2 separate regions of the Homo sapiens genome follow, and region 1 is linked to region 2. The links come from fine-mapping of genetic effects on gene expression. Tissue or cell type: transverse colon. Region 2 holds a variant in brackets; the other region holds the start of a gene. All regions are shown on one strand. Distances are from middle to middle.

What was found. PIP is the estimated chance that this variant, and not a neighbour inherited with it, causes the effect.
Region 1: CYP4V2 starts here. The variant in region 2 is fine-mapped to the expression of CYP4V2 in transverse colon (CEDAR, PIP 0.95). The same link has a PIP of 0.9 or more in pancreatic islets.

The regions. Positions count from the first base shown.
Region 1 is chr4:186,187,689-186,195,874 of GRCh38, forward strand. It overlaps CYP4V2 (cytochrome P450 family 4 subfamily V member 2), which reads left to right and starts at 3,879. Exons shown (of 11, transcript NM_207352.4): 1 at 3,879-4,349; 2 at 6,812-6,924. The coding sequence starts at 4,136. FLJ38576 (a long non-coding RNA gene) reads right to left here and starts at 3,802. Exons shown (of 1, transcript NR_046264.1): 1 at 1,344-3,802. RefSeq lists a silencer at 3,676-4,205.
Region 2 is chr4:186,212,391-186,220,563 of GRCh38, forward strand. CYP4V2 (cytochrome P450 family 4 subfamily V member 2) reads left to right here. Exons shown (of 11, transcript NM_207352.4): 11 at 1-1,073. It also overlaps a transcript of KLKB1 not described here. Among named protein-coding and RNA genes, the nearest start is that of KLKB1, 11 kb to the right of the region's middle. The variant A/G (reference allele first, on the strand shown) is at 4,548.

The DNA.
Region 1 (8,186 bases), 25 kb before region 2:
TTCTGCCATGGGATGATGCAGCAGAAGGCCCTCATCAAATGTGACTCCTCTTTCTCGGACTTCCCAGCCTCCAGAACCGTACCAGTCTGTGATATTTGGTTATAGGAGCACAAAGTGAACTATGACAACATCATTAAGAGGGTGATAAGGCAAACTACAGAGAGGAAGAAACTTGGCAATACATAGCTGGCAAAGGATTTGTATTCATATATAATTTATTATGTAATAATTGCTCATTAATTATTTATAATTCCTACAAATCACTAAAAATCCAGACAACTACAACGTTCAACACGGAAAATGATTTAATAGGTGCTCTCTGAAATAGCCAACAATCTTCTGAAATGATGCTGACTATCCTAGGTCACTAGGAAAATTCATACTAAACTTTCAACGCTCAGCCTAGGCAACATGGCGAAACCCTGTCTCTACTAAAAATACAAAAATTAGCCTGGTGTGGTGGCATGCCCCCGTAGTCCCAGCTACTCAGACGGCTGAAGCGGGAGGATTGCTTGAGCCTGGGAAGTTGAGGCTGCAGTGAGCTGAGATCATGCCACTGCACTACAGTCTGGGTGAGAGAGTGAGATCCTGTCTCACATAATAAATAAATAAATAAATAAATAAATAAATAAATACTCAATGCAGTTTTAGTACAAGACCCAACTGAATGGCTTTGCAAAAAAAAAAAAAAAAAAAAGACAATACCAAACATTGGCAAGTATATGGAGCCACTGGAACTATCAGAGATTGCTCATGAGTGTGTAAATTGGTACAAATGTGGAAAACTGGCAAGAAGTACTAAGTCTAAATGTATGCATGCCTTATGACCTAGCAATTCCATTCCTGGGCATATTTACAGGAAGGAGAAATATGTACATATGTGTATCAAAAGACATCTACAACAATGATCATACAAAATTCTTCACAACATAGGAAAACTGGAAACAACTGAAACATCCATTGGCAGTAAAATGAATAATAAATTATAATATATTCCAACAATGGAATAATAAACAGCTGTGAAAAATAAGGGAAAATATTACACATGGCAATATAGTCAATATAGATTGTCATAAATCAGGTGATTGTACACATACATATGATCTGTTTTATTGCTGTTTTCCATTTGTGTGCCAATTACATGATTTTAATTAATAATGTTATAAGTCTTGATATTTCTTGGTATAAGTTATCTAACTTGTTTTTCAAATTCATCTAAACTCAGGGTTGAGTTTAGGAAGCCAGATACGAAAAAGTGCATGCTGTATGATTTCACGTTGTATCGCATGATCTGGGTTGTGGTTACATGGAAGTGATGGTTTGTTCATGAAACTGGACGTTTGAGTGTTGTATACTTTATTTGATCCTTGTACTTGTGATTCAAAATTTCATAACAACTTCCTGCTACCCTTTATGATTTGATGTGTGTAAGTAGAGTTTGCAGATAATGTAGTTCTATACTGAGCTATGAATTTATTTTTATAATGTACATTGTTTTGTATTAAGAATCATTCCAAGTGACAGAAAATTTGCGAAATCAAAGTATTAACATTTATAAAACCCTTCTGTTGTTTATACTATTCTGGCCATGACTTTCAAAAGCACTGATTTTTAGGGGGACAGAGTATCAAAGAAAGACCTTGGCTAAAGAAAGCTCTTTCAAGTGGGAAGGGCATCATAGAGAATGGATCTTGAGGAGTGAAAGTCAGGAGATGCCTTCCTACTCAGCTGCATAGCTCATGAAGCTGACAACCCGCAGAGTTATAAATGTTGTGGGTAGATTGCCTTCACACTGGCCTTGCAATCATCTGCTACACTGAGCACCATTACATTTCATGGTGGACATTCTAAGGTGTGACACTGTGTACTCTGCTGTCAGGAGGCTTTCCGGGGAGAAGGGTCTTGCCAAGGATTTCTTGCACTCCCAGCCACCTGACTGGTTTAGTCTGAAATTTCAGTATTCCAGGGTAGTATGAGAAAGGCCCTATCTGGTAACAAAGAAAGCATAAGAAAGATGGCTAAGGGAACAAAGGGACAAGGCTTTTATTTTGTTCTTTACCCACAGATTGCCTTCAAAATAAAGATAAAGCGTCTAAGCCTGGCAGTGCAGGTCTCTTTAAGCTGGCTCCATACCCACCCACCTCATCCTGCACCTGTCACTGCGTGGGACCCTGTGCTCCAGGCAGGGGCACCTCACTGCCCCCTGAGCTCATTTTACCCCTCCTGGCTCTGCAGCATTTCTGACCATTTCTGCCCAGGCCGAGACTCACTGCTGCCCAGAGCAATCTCCCTTCTCTCCTTCTGGAGGGGAGGGGTTGTATGTTACCCGCCTGGTTTTATCCACAGAGGTTAGCAGAGACTGATACAGACAAACCCTTTTTCTTTCTAATTTTAGATTCAAGAGCACATGTGCAGGTTTGTTAAATTTGCCTGACGCTGAGGTTTGAGTTTCTATTGATCCCCTCACCTGAATAGGGAACACAGTACCCAATACACAGTTTTTCAACCATTACTCCCCTTCCTTCCTCCCCCTATTTTAGAATCCCCAGTATGTAGACAAATTGTTTACTTTTATAGCTGTAATTAACCTTATTATAGCTCAGCCTCAACCCTTTAGAGAGGAGGAAACTAAAGCCCATGAGACTTGCTTAAAGATACTAAGTGAACATATTTATTTTTTAAAGTGTTAAAGTGATTAAACAATGTAGACGTGAATGAAATAAAAAGCGTAAGTTCCCCATCTTCATTCCCACTCCATAGAGCTGATCAGTATTTTTACTTGCAGACATTAGTGGAGCCGTAGAGAAAGAAACCTTTTCTCCAAAAGAAGGCATTACTTTACACACTCCGTTCTGCAACTTGTTTTGTTCACTTGCTATTTCACGTCAGCCCATGCAGATGACTTAAAACAAATTCAAATGGAGAAAAGCCTTAGGCATGTTTTTCTCTGCACTAAAGAGGCCCTGCAGGTGGCTGTGGCCAACTTATGCAGTGGCTTCGAGTGAACGAACGTAATTAGTAATTAAGCAAAGCGGGCATCCAGGACATTCAGTTTCATCTTCCTGGCACTTTAGTGTTTAGGAAGGGCCTGGCCTCTCGGGGAGCGACACTCCTCGCCCGGCCACTTTGTAAGAAGCATCGAGCGTGGAAAAGGGGCTGGGGTCAGCACTGGGGCCCTCTGCCGGGAAGAGAGACTGGCGGCCAGCACACGCGTCTCCCCAGGCTGAAATGGGGCACCCTCTCGCGGCCCTTCCCTCCCTTCCCGGGCTGGGTGGCAGGTCTTGGCTCTTCTGCGAGTACCCCGCGGCTGCGGTCTCCCGGCACCCGCTGAGCAGCCTCGCCCGCCTTCCTCTCCCACCCGCCCCTGCGTGCTCTCCGGGGCTCCGGCTTCCTCGGTCTGGTGCCTGGTGCGTATTTTGGAAAATACCTGGCTCATAACCACCTCATTGAGCTCCCAGTGTCCCAGTGGGCCAGCGGACACACACGGGTAGCTGACTTCCCTAACGTGTCCCCAAAGCCTCCCTGGATTACAGCGCCCGCTGCTCCATGTGACCCCGCGGGAGCCAGGACGCGCCCCGCCTCCCGGGGCTGCAAGTTGCGCAGGGAGCGAGCGATGCGCAGCAGAGCTGGGCTCCGAGCCGGATGCGCCTTCCTTTCCTCTCCAGAGCAGGCTGCCCGCCCGCGGAATCCCGCACGTAGAGCAACCTCGCAGCACCCTCAGAACAGCCCCGCTGGGGCGCGCCGGGCTGCCGCGGTGACCTTTCCGACGCCCCTGACCCCGCATCCGGAGGCGGCCGGAAGTGTCGCCGGCCTCCTCCCGGCGCAGCCTCCGGGCCTCCAGTGCAATCACTACGCCCTGGGGCCCGGAAACCGTTTTCCGGTCTTTCGCTTTCGGCTGGGGCGTGGAGGCCGCGGTGCTGCGTAGGCCGGGCCGGGCGCAGGAACAGCCCCGTGGCGCCCTCTCTGGCCGCCGCCCGGGCGGGAAACGTCGTTCCGGGGACCGGGCGACCCCGCAGCGGGGAGCGCGCCAGGTCCGCGCGGGGAAGTGGGCGGTGTGCGGCCGGCACCGCCTCGCACCACGCCCCCGCGGGCCCGCACTTTCCCGGAGTGCACCCCGCGGCCGCCAGCCGGGGCGATGGCGGGGCTCTGGCTGGGGCTCGTGTGGCAGAAGCTGCTGCTGTGGGGCGCGGCGAGTGCCCTTTCCCTGGCCGGCGCCAGTCTGGTCCTGAGCCTGCTGCAGAGGGTGGCGAGCTACGCGCGGAAATGGCAGCAGATGCGGCCCATCCCCACGGTGGCCCGCGCCTACCCACTGGTGGGCCACGCGCTGCTGATGAAGCCGGACGGGCGAGGTAAGGGCCGGCGCTCCTCCTGGAGCGCAACGGGGTCCGCAGCCCCGTTCCCACCCTCCGATCAGCCAGGAACCCGCTGCTTGTGGCGCTGGCCGCAGGAGAGAGGAGCCTGTCACCCTGTGGAGAATGCACTCCCAGTTCTAGTCGTTGCCCCTTGGCACCCGCCGACACTGCTAGTGCCCCATCCCAAAGTGAGCATTTTCTTTGTGTGTAGCACAGGATGCGGTATTTCCAAACCCCTGCCCTCGGTCTTTTCCCACCTCACCGCTGCTCAGCTCTCAAAGCCCTGCCGTTTCCTCCTGCCTTGGCTTGGGAAGCCTTAGGAACAGAAGCTCCCTGGGAGCACAGAGCGGTTTTAAACTGGCCAACACCTTAACGCCCAGAGCCGCCCTCCTCTCGCTGCCACTTTGGAAAATAAGAGACTAGAGATTCACTGGACGCTTCCTCCCGGCATCACAAGACTTGACTGCTGCTTCAGTTCCCGCTTGACCTTCATACTTTAGCCCTTTAAAGGATGTTACATAATAACAATTAAGAGACGGCAGGGCCTTCAGGCAGACTTCTTTGGAGGGTGTCAAACGCCTTGTTTATTAAAGAGTGAATTTTTTAATTAAAATCATGTTTTAAAACAGAGATGGACATTTTATTGATGGAAAAAAATCACGTTAAGTTAGAAAGCTCTCAAAAGTACCTGGTATTTACAACTCCCTGTCAGGGAGGGCGAACTCGATCTCAGAGTTTTATTTTCATCAGGGATTACGTTGAGGTACCCAGAAATGAGAAGATTTGCCCAAAATGGCATATTTTAAAATTGGCCCAGACCAGAACCCAGTTTCCTCTGGGATTATTTGTTAGTAATCGTTTTACAGGCTGAGCATTAACTAACTCCAAAGCTTGAAGGACTTTTTCTCATTTTCACTTGTTTTCTCTAATAAAAATAATGCTGTAATTTCAACTTCACAAGATGAGGCCTCATGGAAGAGTGTTTACCAAAATATTAAAAATACTTTGACAGAAAAAAATCAAGCGAACTCTTTGCCAACCAAATATCATCATGACTGATGTAACAAGTAATCCAACACAGATATGAAAATCACACTGGTAAAAATCATCTCAGTTAATTCTAAAAGCAGAGCTAACCACCCCTTTTGTCCTAAGGCTTTATGGTATTAAAAAATAAACTGTACAAAAATATAGATTTTCCCCTATCCCCTACCCCTGGAAAGTAATATACTGAAGTCTCATCATACTGTTTTGGGGATTCCAGTAATTAAAATCTCTAGTGAATAAAGACCTGTTTCAAAACAACCTGTGAGCTGACTGGACTATTTAAAGTAATTCTCCTTGTAGTCACTTTCAGAGTGAAGACAATGACGAATACTGTCTTTTACAAAGGGACTTTTTATTCCACCAACAAATTCTGGATTTTGGCATCAGGAAAACCACTGTTCAATTTCCAACACTATATCCAAGTTGTTTGAGAAATTATTTAAAACTCTTTAACTTAGAGGGTTTTCTTTCTCCTTTACTTGTTAAAGTGACTATATTACAGAGTCACTTTAAGGATTAAATTTATTGCATGCAAAGTTTCTAGATCACTGTCTAGAAGTCAGTTAGAGTAAGTTCTTTAGTTGTCAATCAAGCATTTAGTAAGGCCCTGCTTTGTGCCCAGTGTTGACCTCAACAAAGTTGGGGATATCAGAATATTCTAAGATACAGTCGTTGTTCCCAAGAATCTTGTCTTTCACATACAAGAGGTGTTGCGTTTCATTTTGCGGCTAATGTCCAAACGCTGGCCTCAGCCATTTCACCTTGAAGATTGCAGTTGGCTTCCAACTGGCCTCTAAACTCTAATCTAGCATTTTCCAGTCCATTGTGACAAAGTCTGCCTTCCCCAGCTACTCCCAGCTGTTGGACCTGCTGCCTTAGAACCACAGATTGAGACCTCCCTGTCCCCTCTGTCAGACCAGACCAGGGCAGGCAGTATATTTGCATGACGCAGGATGATTGACACTGGTGATTTCACCCAGCTCCCTTCATAGCAATTTTGACAACTGCTTCATCTGAGAGACATTTGGAAGCAGCATAGTTTATGGTGAAGTTCTGGAGTCTCGCTCGGTACAAGCCAGTTTCCACCATTTACTAGCTCTGTGATACTGGGCAGTCGTTAGAAAGAATGCCCGTTCTGGGACATCAAAACCTAATAATTATTATTCTCTAATAGCTAACATGCATTATGTGTGTTTATTTGCTGTGGCAAATACTATGTTGAAAAAAACTTTAGACTTACAGAAAAGTTGCAGTATTACAGGCAGTTCACACATGCTCTCTACCTGGCTTCCTCTAACAGTAACATATTACAGAATTAGTATATTCATCAAAATGAGAAAACAAACCTTTGTCCAATACTGGTCACAACTTTCTCATCTTGATTGAATTTCAAATTTGATGTTTTTCCCCAGAATTTTTTCAGCAGATCATTGAGTACACAGAGGAATACCGCCACATGCCGCTGCTGAAGCTCTGGGTCGGGCCAGTGCCCATGGTGGCCCTTTATAATGCAGAAAATGTGGAGGTGGGTACATGTGAATATGATCAGTATTGTACTGTGTATCTGACAGTGTGAGAATCTCACCAGAATCAATATAACGTGTCCTTATATTTCAGCCATTTCAGCACAAAAAACATTCCACTAAGTATTTTAGACTATATAGGTGCAATTTAATGCTTTCCAGGTATAGCCCGAATCCTGGGAGATTAACATTCTCCAGATATAAGTGCACAACTGCTATCAGGTCCCTTTATATTTATTCTTTTTTTGAAAGGATATCGTTTTTTAGAAACACAAATAAATTATTCCGCAAGGCAAGCACTTGTTATCCACCAGACGCTATTTTAAGACTTCAAAAATATATGACTAATAAAATATGTTTCCCTCAAGTTGCTCAGGGTCTCATATCAATGATAAACTTAGTCCAAATTTAAAAGACAATGCAAATTTGATATTTATGGGATAAATATTACAAACCCATGCTGTTGAAATTAGTCCTCCAAAAAGCTGTAGTCTTTTTACTTGTTGAAAGGTCTGGGGAAATCATCTTGTAGTATGGTGAGAAAAGGATTTGGGTCAGGAAACAAAGATGGGGTAAACAGAGCTTCTCTTCATCGACCAAAATTAAAGACTGAATTTCCTAGGAAGTAGTGCCAGGACATGTCTTTCTAATTATGGTGAAAATGTTGGAGTTTCTCTTGCTTCTCCAGAATCCTGGCTCAGAGAAGAGAGCAAGAAGGGCAGACAGGATTTCTGCCGCTGTTGGCCTAGTGTTAATAGAAGTTGGTGTGGTGGATGCAGATGGAGATCTGTCCAGAGTAGGGGACTTGAGCAAGAAGCCTGGTGGGCACCCTGTGCTCAGCCCTAGACCCCATCCCTCCTCCCACTTCACGTGGACTCTGGGTGATCCGATCACGTTCATGGCTTCCATTGCTGCCTCTATGCTGGGGACACTCCGAACAGGCATCTCCAGCTCAGGCCTTATCTTGGCTGTCTCACTTGCTTTCAGACCACAGCAACCTGAAGGCCTCAAAGTTACCATCACCTGAAAATACACCTATGATTTCCATCTCCCCACATGTGCCCACCCTCCAGATTCGCCTCCTCCCACCTCACTGTCCCCCTCCCCACATTAAATAACTCCACTTGGTTCCTGGTTTATGGCGGGAACCAGAGAATCATCTGGGACATCTTTCTTCCCCCCAACTCCATTGAGTCCCCAAGACTGAATGCCAGTTTTATGTTCAAAACTCTAACTGAATGTCTTTGAGGCACAGGACTGAAAA
Region 2 (8,173 bases):
TACTTATGAAGGTGATAACTGACACGTGTTCACTGAATTTTAATTTGATAGGCAATACATCTACCCACTCCATTATTTTTTAAAACTTCATTTAATAGTTTAAACAAGATTGGTTTTGTTTTCAATTTTTATTCACTCTTCATAGAATCACAATTACCTTTATATATCATATGTTATTGGAAGAGATTCCTCAGTAATCTCCAATCTCTCATAGTGCCTCACAGGGTTGGTCAATGGCTTTTGGAACTGGAAGGACCTTAGAACTTATCTGTTATGCTCCTGATAGCCAATAGCAGATAGAAGCTTGCAATCAAGAGGGTAGGACATGTGTTCTTCAATGGATATCAAAGGAAGAGGTTGCAAACCAAAGCCATTTGGCAAGCCCTGTAGCCTGGGCCATTTAAGACAGGGGCGGTCTCAGCCAAATTGCACCCATTTAACTATCCCAAAGAGCCACAGTGCCTACAACCCAGGCCCTAAGTTGATGAAGAAAAAGTCAAGGAAGGAGGTGATACAATTGGAAATATTCCCATCAAATGGTTAATCTTATTTAGAAAATGGGCATATTAGAAAAAGTCCTTCCAAGATGATTTTGGATAATAAAAGTTGTATTTGTGGAAATTGGTATTATCTCTGTTTTATGCACTTACATTTATCCCTTACATTTTGTTTTTAGTGACCCTACATGACATTAAATTTAAAGTAAAACATTGTTTAATGTTACCTTTTGGCTTGAGAATGTCTTTCAGCTCCAGAATTATTGTTACTCATATTTTAATCAGTAAGTCATTTAAGCTATGACAGAGTAGGAATTGAGAAATTATTTCATATGCTACAGTATTGAAATGTGGATGCTGCCTTGTTTTATAAGAAGATGATCAAGGTTTGTGTGCCCATTACCTTTCCTCTGCCTGAAAGACGTGTCTCAAGAAAAATAAATTCTATTTTAGATGCAGGTACTGCATTTTATTCTAAGAATTGATATCAATTCAAAACATAGAAAACTGTAAAAGATAAATCAGGAGATGGCTGATTCATAATGGGTAATAAAATAAATAGCACTTTCGAGCTGATGTCGTCAGTGACTCTTGGATTTTCTAACAAAAGGTTCCTTTACTGTTGTCATAGAGAGATTGTGAATTTCTCTGACTCTGAAGAATCAACTAGAAGAAGTAGAATCACCAGAACATTTTGCTCAGCTGAAAGCACAAAGTAAACTCAGTTACTGGGAATCAGCAAAAACCACAGGCATCACTGGTCCCAGGGATTTAGAGTCCAGAAACCTCTCCAGGTGATGGACTGTTGATTTGGGGCTCTATGCATTGTCACAGACAGCTGGGGATATCAGTTTCTGGACCAAATGACCCAATAAGAGATGCTGGTCGTAAAAATCCATTTTTATCTGGAATGTTTCTAGAAGATCAAAACCTTTTTCCTTCCAGCATCTAATGCCTGAGTGATACATTTAAAAATTTTTAGTCTGCGTGGGCACCCTCTTTTTCTAGGAGCAGCACTTTTTATTTTTGAAATTATCCTACAATGAATTACCGGCTTTTCTTCTGTTCTCATCTTTTTCCTTCCCCAGCATACACACACTGTAAATATGTGCCATATTCTTAGGCAATCCCACTTTCTCAACCTTTGTTGAGTGACCCAAGCAAGGTTAAATTCGAGTTCTCCCCAACGAGTTTTCCCAGCTGCAATTGAAGAAGAGATACAGTCCATCTCTGTGGTGGAAACTCCAGGTTGTGAAACTCAAGATCAATCAGCAATAGAACCTCTGGAGCAGCTGCTGGGTGATGAGAAGAAGCAGGCAGAAGAAATGGACAGAATCCTGGAGGAACCTGAGTCCCACATGGCAGGTGATGCTGAGGCTCACTGCATGTCTGCCCTGCTCACTCTTCAGTGGGTCCACCCTACTTGGGAACCCAAGAGCCAGTATATTGCCGTTTGCTTAAAAGGACTGTCTTTCATTTATGACCAAAAGCGAGTTAGTGTGTGTCAGGTCAGCCGAAGGATGAAGGAAGGGCCCCCATTCTCTGGATATGATCTTAGGTCTTCACCCTATTTTCTTTGTGCTGTTCAATAATTCTCTGTATTGGATCATCAGCATATATGCCCACCAGTCCTTTAAATGCAATACCATTTAAGAAAATGCAGAGTTTTCTCTTTTCTAGATAGTAGGAAAGTTAAAGTTACACTGCATTGTTTTAGAAGACAGCTAGGCTTAACCTAACACATCAGTCTAGTTTTTTGGTTCTGCCATGATGACTTTCTGGACTAATTAGTCATTTTTCTCCTCTAATTAAACCAGGTTCATTTTCCTGCTGGCTAGCTGTATGCCACATTTCAGGGATAAATCTCTCATCTCTAATTACTAAAATGGACTCGTTGCATCCTTGCCTCAGTTTCTTGTCCAGAAGTTCACCAAATGGTTATTTCCTTGGGCTGAATTCAGTTTTGGAATTAACTCCAGCATTTAGCTGTTGATCTTGTTCTCTTTATCCTAGTAGATAAGTTTTTGGCACGTTCTTTCTCCTTCCCATCATTATCTCTCCTCTTTACCCGTCACTTTCTTTCTGTTGTGGTTTGCATTTATTGATCTCTGCCTTTCCTGATACTACTCAATTTATGTTTCACAGAAATAACGGCTGTACTTAAATGAAACTCAGATTCCTATATAAAAATGTTGGGATAACTTTGTTCCTTCAGTAAGGGTCATACAGACATTATAGATCTTATCGGGAAGAAAAATTATCACAATATTTAGACATGACTGTCTTATTTTAAAAATGTTTTCAGTTTACTTTCAGATTCCATATATAGTTTTAAAATACATGTTTTAGCTGAATAGTAAAAAAAAAAAAAAATATGTAGGCACAGGAGTATCTATTGGGCACTCCTGGGAAGGAGAGTAGCCTTTCTTTCTCTTTCTTTCTCTTTCTTTCTCTTTCTTTCCTTCTTTCTTTCCTTCCTTCCTTCCTTCCTTCTTTCCTTGCTTTCTTCTTTCTTTCCTTGCTTTCTCTCTTGCTTTCTCTCTCTCTCTCCTTGCTTGCTTGCTTTCCTTTTTTTTTTTCTATATTCTACCTCTAGGCTTTGCGTCCTTGCTTGCGCAAGTCAAGCCCAAGTTTTAAGTTTTATGCTTATGGAAATACAGTAAATTAAGACATTTATTTATTTATTTATTTATTTATCTATCTATCTATTTTTTGAGACAGGGTCACCTAGGCCGGAGTGCAGTGGCGCAATTGTGGCTCACTGCAACCTTCACCTACTGCGCTCAAGGGATCATCCCACCTCAGTCTGCTGAGTAGCTAGGACTACAGGTGCATGCCACCGTGCCTGGCTAATTTTTGTAATTTTTCTTGTACAGTTGGGGTTTGGCCATGTTTCCCAGGCTAAATTAAGACATTTAAATCACTCAGGCACAACTAATTTTTTCATATTGCCACATCTTCCTAGGAGTGGGATTGTGCTTCAGTTTTTTCAGCTGTCTATGCCTTAATTTTGACTCCCATCAATAATGCTTGATGTTGTAGCCAGTGTTGGTTTATTATTACCAAAAGCAATGCTGTTCTGGAAAGGCAAGGACTGCAGTGTCTCATATGATGCAATTGGACGGAACCTCAAGACGACATTTGCTCCCAGCAAAGGGCATTCAGCAGAACAAGGACCAATCAGAATTCATCCAACAATCATTTTCAGTGTCATCTAAGACTGGCAGGTAATAGCTTACATGTGCGATTGTGACTTTCATGTGAGGATGAGATGGTCCACAACTGCGGGGAAAGCAACCTTCCTGTCCTCAATCTCTTGTTTTTAAAAGATATTTCATTCCTTATTCATGTGCTTATTTATTTATCGTTTTACTCTTTCATTCATAAAAGTCTGCCAAGTTCTATTGAGGGAGCTGGGGAAAGACAGCAAGCAAGCCCCAGTCCTACCAGCAAGGTGTTACAGACAGTGGGCGTCTGAAAAACAACAGAGAAATGGACAAGGAGGTAACAGAATGGCAGGGAGTGAGAAGCGTTACGCAGAAAGACAAAGAATGGTGAAGAGACAGGAGGTGGAAGAGATGGAAGGTGCCTTTTCAGATGAGATGCTTGCTGGAGGATGGTATCCTGAGGAGATGATGTTTGAGCAGTGGTCTGATTGAAGTGAGTCACGTGGGGATCTGGGACAAGGGGAGGTGGAGAGGGCTCCATCCTGGCACGTGTCTAAGGGGAGGTTCTGGAGAAAAATCCTCTTTCAAGCACGTGCAGTTTGTTGGAATATTCAGTGCTTTGGGATGGTAGGGGTGAAATCCCCATGTTCTTTTTGGCTCTTGTCCAGAGATGACTCTCAGGTCCTTCCCCGTGACCCATCTCAAAGCCAGCGCTGGAGCACTTCCCTGCTGTCAATCCCTCTTAACGCTCTGAATCTCTCTGACATCTCCTTATGCTGACCGCAGAGGAAAACTCTGCTTTTAATGGGCTCATGTAATAAGATTTGGCCCACTCTGATTGACTCCATTTTGATTGGCACAAAGCCAAGTGTTTAGTAATCTT[A/G]ACCCCATCTGCAGAATTGCTTTTCTCATGTAACATAATCATGGGCAGATGTGATATCTCGTTTTATTCACTGTCCCCAGGATTTGAGTGGGAGATTTGGGAGAATGTTTTAGAATTCTACTTACCACGCCTCTTTTCAATTTAGTTCTGATTTGGTTCACCTGAATCTACAGAGGTTTTTTTAGTTTTATTGTGCTACTAGAATGTAACATGTTTCACTGTAAGAAAACTCCAACTAAACCTAGAAGCATATTTAAATAGGTTAAAAGTCTGTAATCTCACCTTTTAGAAAAACAAACCCTGAGGGTTTCTGCTGTGATGTGAAGGCAGGGTGCTTTTGTCCCAGTTGTTTTGTTGTTGTTGTTGTTGTTCTTGTTTTCTGCTGAGCCTGGTAGCTGATGAAATCTAAAATATAAACTCTTTTCTACTGCACAAAGTGGAGAGATTTGTTGACTACTGCTGCACCACTTGATATCCTAAAAGACAGCACAACATGCATATTTAAAATATGCTACTTCCTTCTCACCAGAAAATATTTTATTGGCAACATTATCCTACATTTCTAATAAATGTAGTTCTGCATTCCAGTAATATACATAAAATATTTATTTAAGAATCGACTCCAAAAACTCTAATGTACTAATCAAGATGATATACTGTAATTTCAAAGAATAGAAAACAAAGGAGATTTAGTGGGCAGGTCATTGTGGTCTTTAAATATTTTAAAAGCAGAAAAAGGAGAATCAGTTGTTTTGTGTGGGTCTAGTACGTAAATCTAGGACTGAAGGATAGAAGTTTGCAAGGAGGTGTATTTCAGTATACAGGAAGTTTTTTTCTTTTCTTAAAAATAAAATTAAAATAGAGCTCCCTGAGCTCTGAAATAAAATAAAATTAAAATAGAGCTCCCTGAGTTGGAGCAGGCTGCTTAGGAAACCAGTTTCTCCTCAGTCGAAGTATTTTGACAGGAAGGTCTAAAGTCTATGTCAGAAGTGTTATCCAGCAGATTTCAGCCAACCTTATCTGTAGAGTCAGATAGTAAATCTTCTTGGCTTTTGAGGCCATGCTGCCTCTGTAGCAACTTCTTAACTCTGCCATTGTAAGGTGAAAGCAGGCATAGACAGCAAGTGAATGAATGGCCATGGCTGTGTTTCAATAAAACTTTATTTACAAAAACAGGTGCAAAGCCAAATGTGGTCTGTGAACTGTGGTTTGTCAAGCCTGATATATTGCATTTCCTGAATTGGGTGGGAATAGGACCTAAACATCAAGCCAGTCCCTTCCAAATCTAAGATTTCAGTGTTATATGATTCTTTGGTAGGGTGTAGGAAGGCATAGATATCATTTGCTAAAATATCCCTCTAGGAGGAGCTATCCATACCCATCCATTATTCACTGTGCCTGCAAGCAACTCTAATAAAAAAAAGTTCTGTTAGATGAGGTTTCAACTACATGCCACTAAATACTGGGAATGTTATAAGCATTTTTTAAAATGGAAACCTGTGCATAAACTGTGTGACCCTAAAATGAAATTAGGGTCCTTTTGAGTGCAGCATTTTTCTACCTTTTTTTATGTATCATTTACAAATAAAAATTATATATATCTACTGTGTACAAGATAGTGTTTTGATATACATGTACATTGTGAAATGATTACCATAGTCAAGCTAATTAACATGTCCATTATTTTACATAGTGTGTGTGTGTGTGTGTGTGTGCGCATGTGTGTGTGCTGAGAACCCATCAGATCTATTCTCTAGTGAAGTTCATGTATACGATACAGTATTATGAACTATAGTCACCATGTTTGCATTAGTCAGGGTTCTCTAGAAGGACAGAACTAATAGGATAGATGTACATATAAAGGGGAGTTTATTAAAGAGTATTGACTCACACGATCACAAGGTGAAGTCCCACAATAGTCTGCCTGCAGGCTGAGGAGCAAGGAAGCCAGTCTAAGTCCCAAAACCTCAAAAGCAAGAAAGTCAACAGTGCAGCCTTCAGTCTGTGGTCAAAGGTCCAAGAGCCCTTGGCAAACCACTGGTGTAACTCCAAGAGTCCAAAAGCTGAAGAACTTGGAGTACAATGTTCAAGGGCAGGAAACATCCAGCACAGGAGAAAGATGAGGGCCAGAAGACTTAGCCAGTCTAGTCCTTCCACGTTCCTCTGCCTGCTTTTATCCTAGCCCGGCTGGCAGCTGAGATGGTGCCCACCCAGATTGAGGGTGGGTCTGCCTCTCCCAGTCAACTGACTCAAATATTAATCTCCTTTGGCAACACCCTCACAGACACATCCAGGAACAATACTTGGCATCCTTCAATCCAGTCAAGCCGACACTCAATATTAACCATCACAAGTCCACCCCTTGTCTACTTGAACCCATACGCATCTCCTGAAATCATATATAATCTTCAAATAAAGATAATAATAAGGTCATAATTATGTTAGGTAATACATAATACAGCTATCCTTCGTACAACCAGAAGTGTACCAATCCCCAACCCAAATGCTGTTACATAAAGTTAACAACATTTAAATGCTGATTTGAAGTAAATAAATCTTATGTCACATGATAAAGGAAAAAGAAAGGAAATAAAATGAAGATATTTTCTTAGTACAAGTGTATACATACACAAACATGTTCCTAACAAAATAAGGAGGAAATATGACAATTACAGTCCTCATTTCTGCAGCTGGTCACGTGGGCATAGCCGGTATTGATGACTACCTTCTTCTACTACCCATTCTGTATTCCTTTTGCCTTCAGCAAGCATCTCAGCAGGTTGTGGTTTTTTACCTGGTGGAGTGACCCAAACATTCATTCCTAAGGGGTCTGGGCCTTATGTAGCACTGCCTGGATTGGGCTGTTGTAGTTTCCCATTGACCTTAATCACAGGGCATGGTAATACTAAGAGTTGCCTGAAGGGATCTCCTGTATTCCTTGCATACTCTTCCTTACCTCCACTGTGGAGTAATAGACTAACTTCATCTTGATAGTCCAGGTCAATCACCACAGCCAACACTGCAACTCCCTTCTGAGCCTGTTGACTTAGAGGTAAAAGGATCTCAAAGTGTCCAGGTGGCAAGCTTAACTTCCAGTTTAATGGAATCCTTGTTGTGTCTTCTGGTGGCAGCATTTTTCCCTCTGAAACTAACACAACTAAGCAAGCAGAAGGTAATGTATTGGGAACAGGAAGCAAAAATTTTGCTAGTGGATAGCTAGGGGTGATGGTGAGTGGTGCCACTTCCACTTCTGCCCCTTGATTCCTAGACCTGTGAATCCTGGCTATGGGAGAAACGGTGCCATATATTGGATGTTGATTCAGAGCATACATAGCCTTCTGGAGAATTTTGCCCCAGCCCTGCAAAGTATTGTCCCCTAGTTGGCATTGTAATTGTGACTTCAAAAGGCCATTCCACCGTTCTATCAATACAGCTGCTTCAGGATGACGGGAAACAATGTTGTACATTAGATCCTCCAACTTATTCACACTGCATAATTGGAACTTTGGACCTTTTGACCAAAACCACCCCATAGCTGGCACTCCCCATACTCTGGCTACCACCATTCTACTCTCTGTTAGCATGACTTTGACTTTTTTAGATTCTGCATGTAGTTGTAAGTGCCT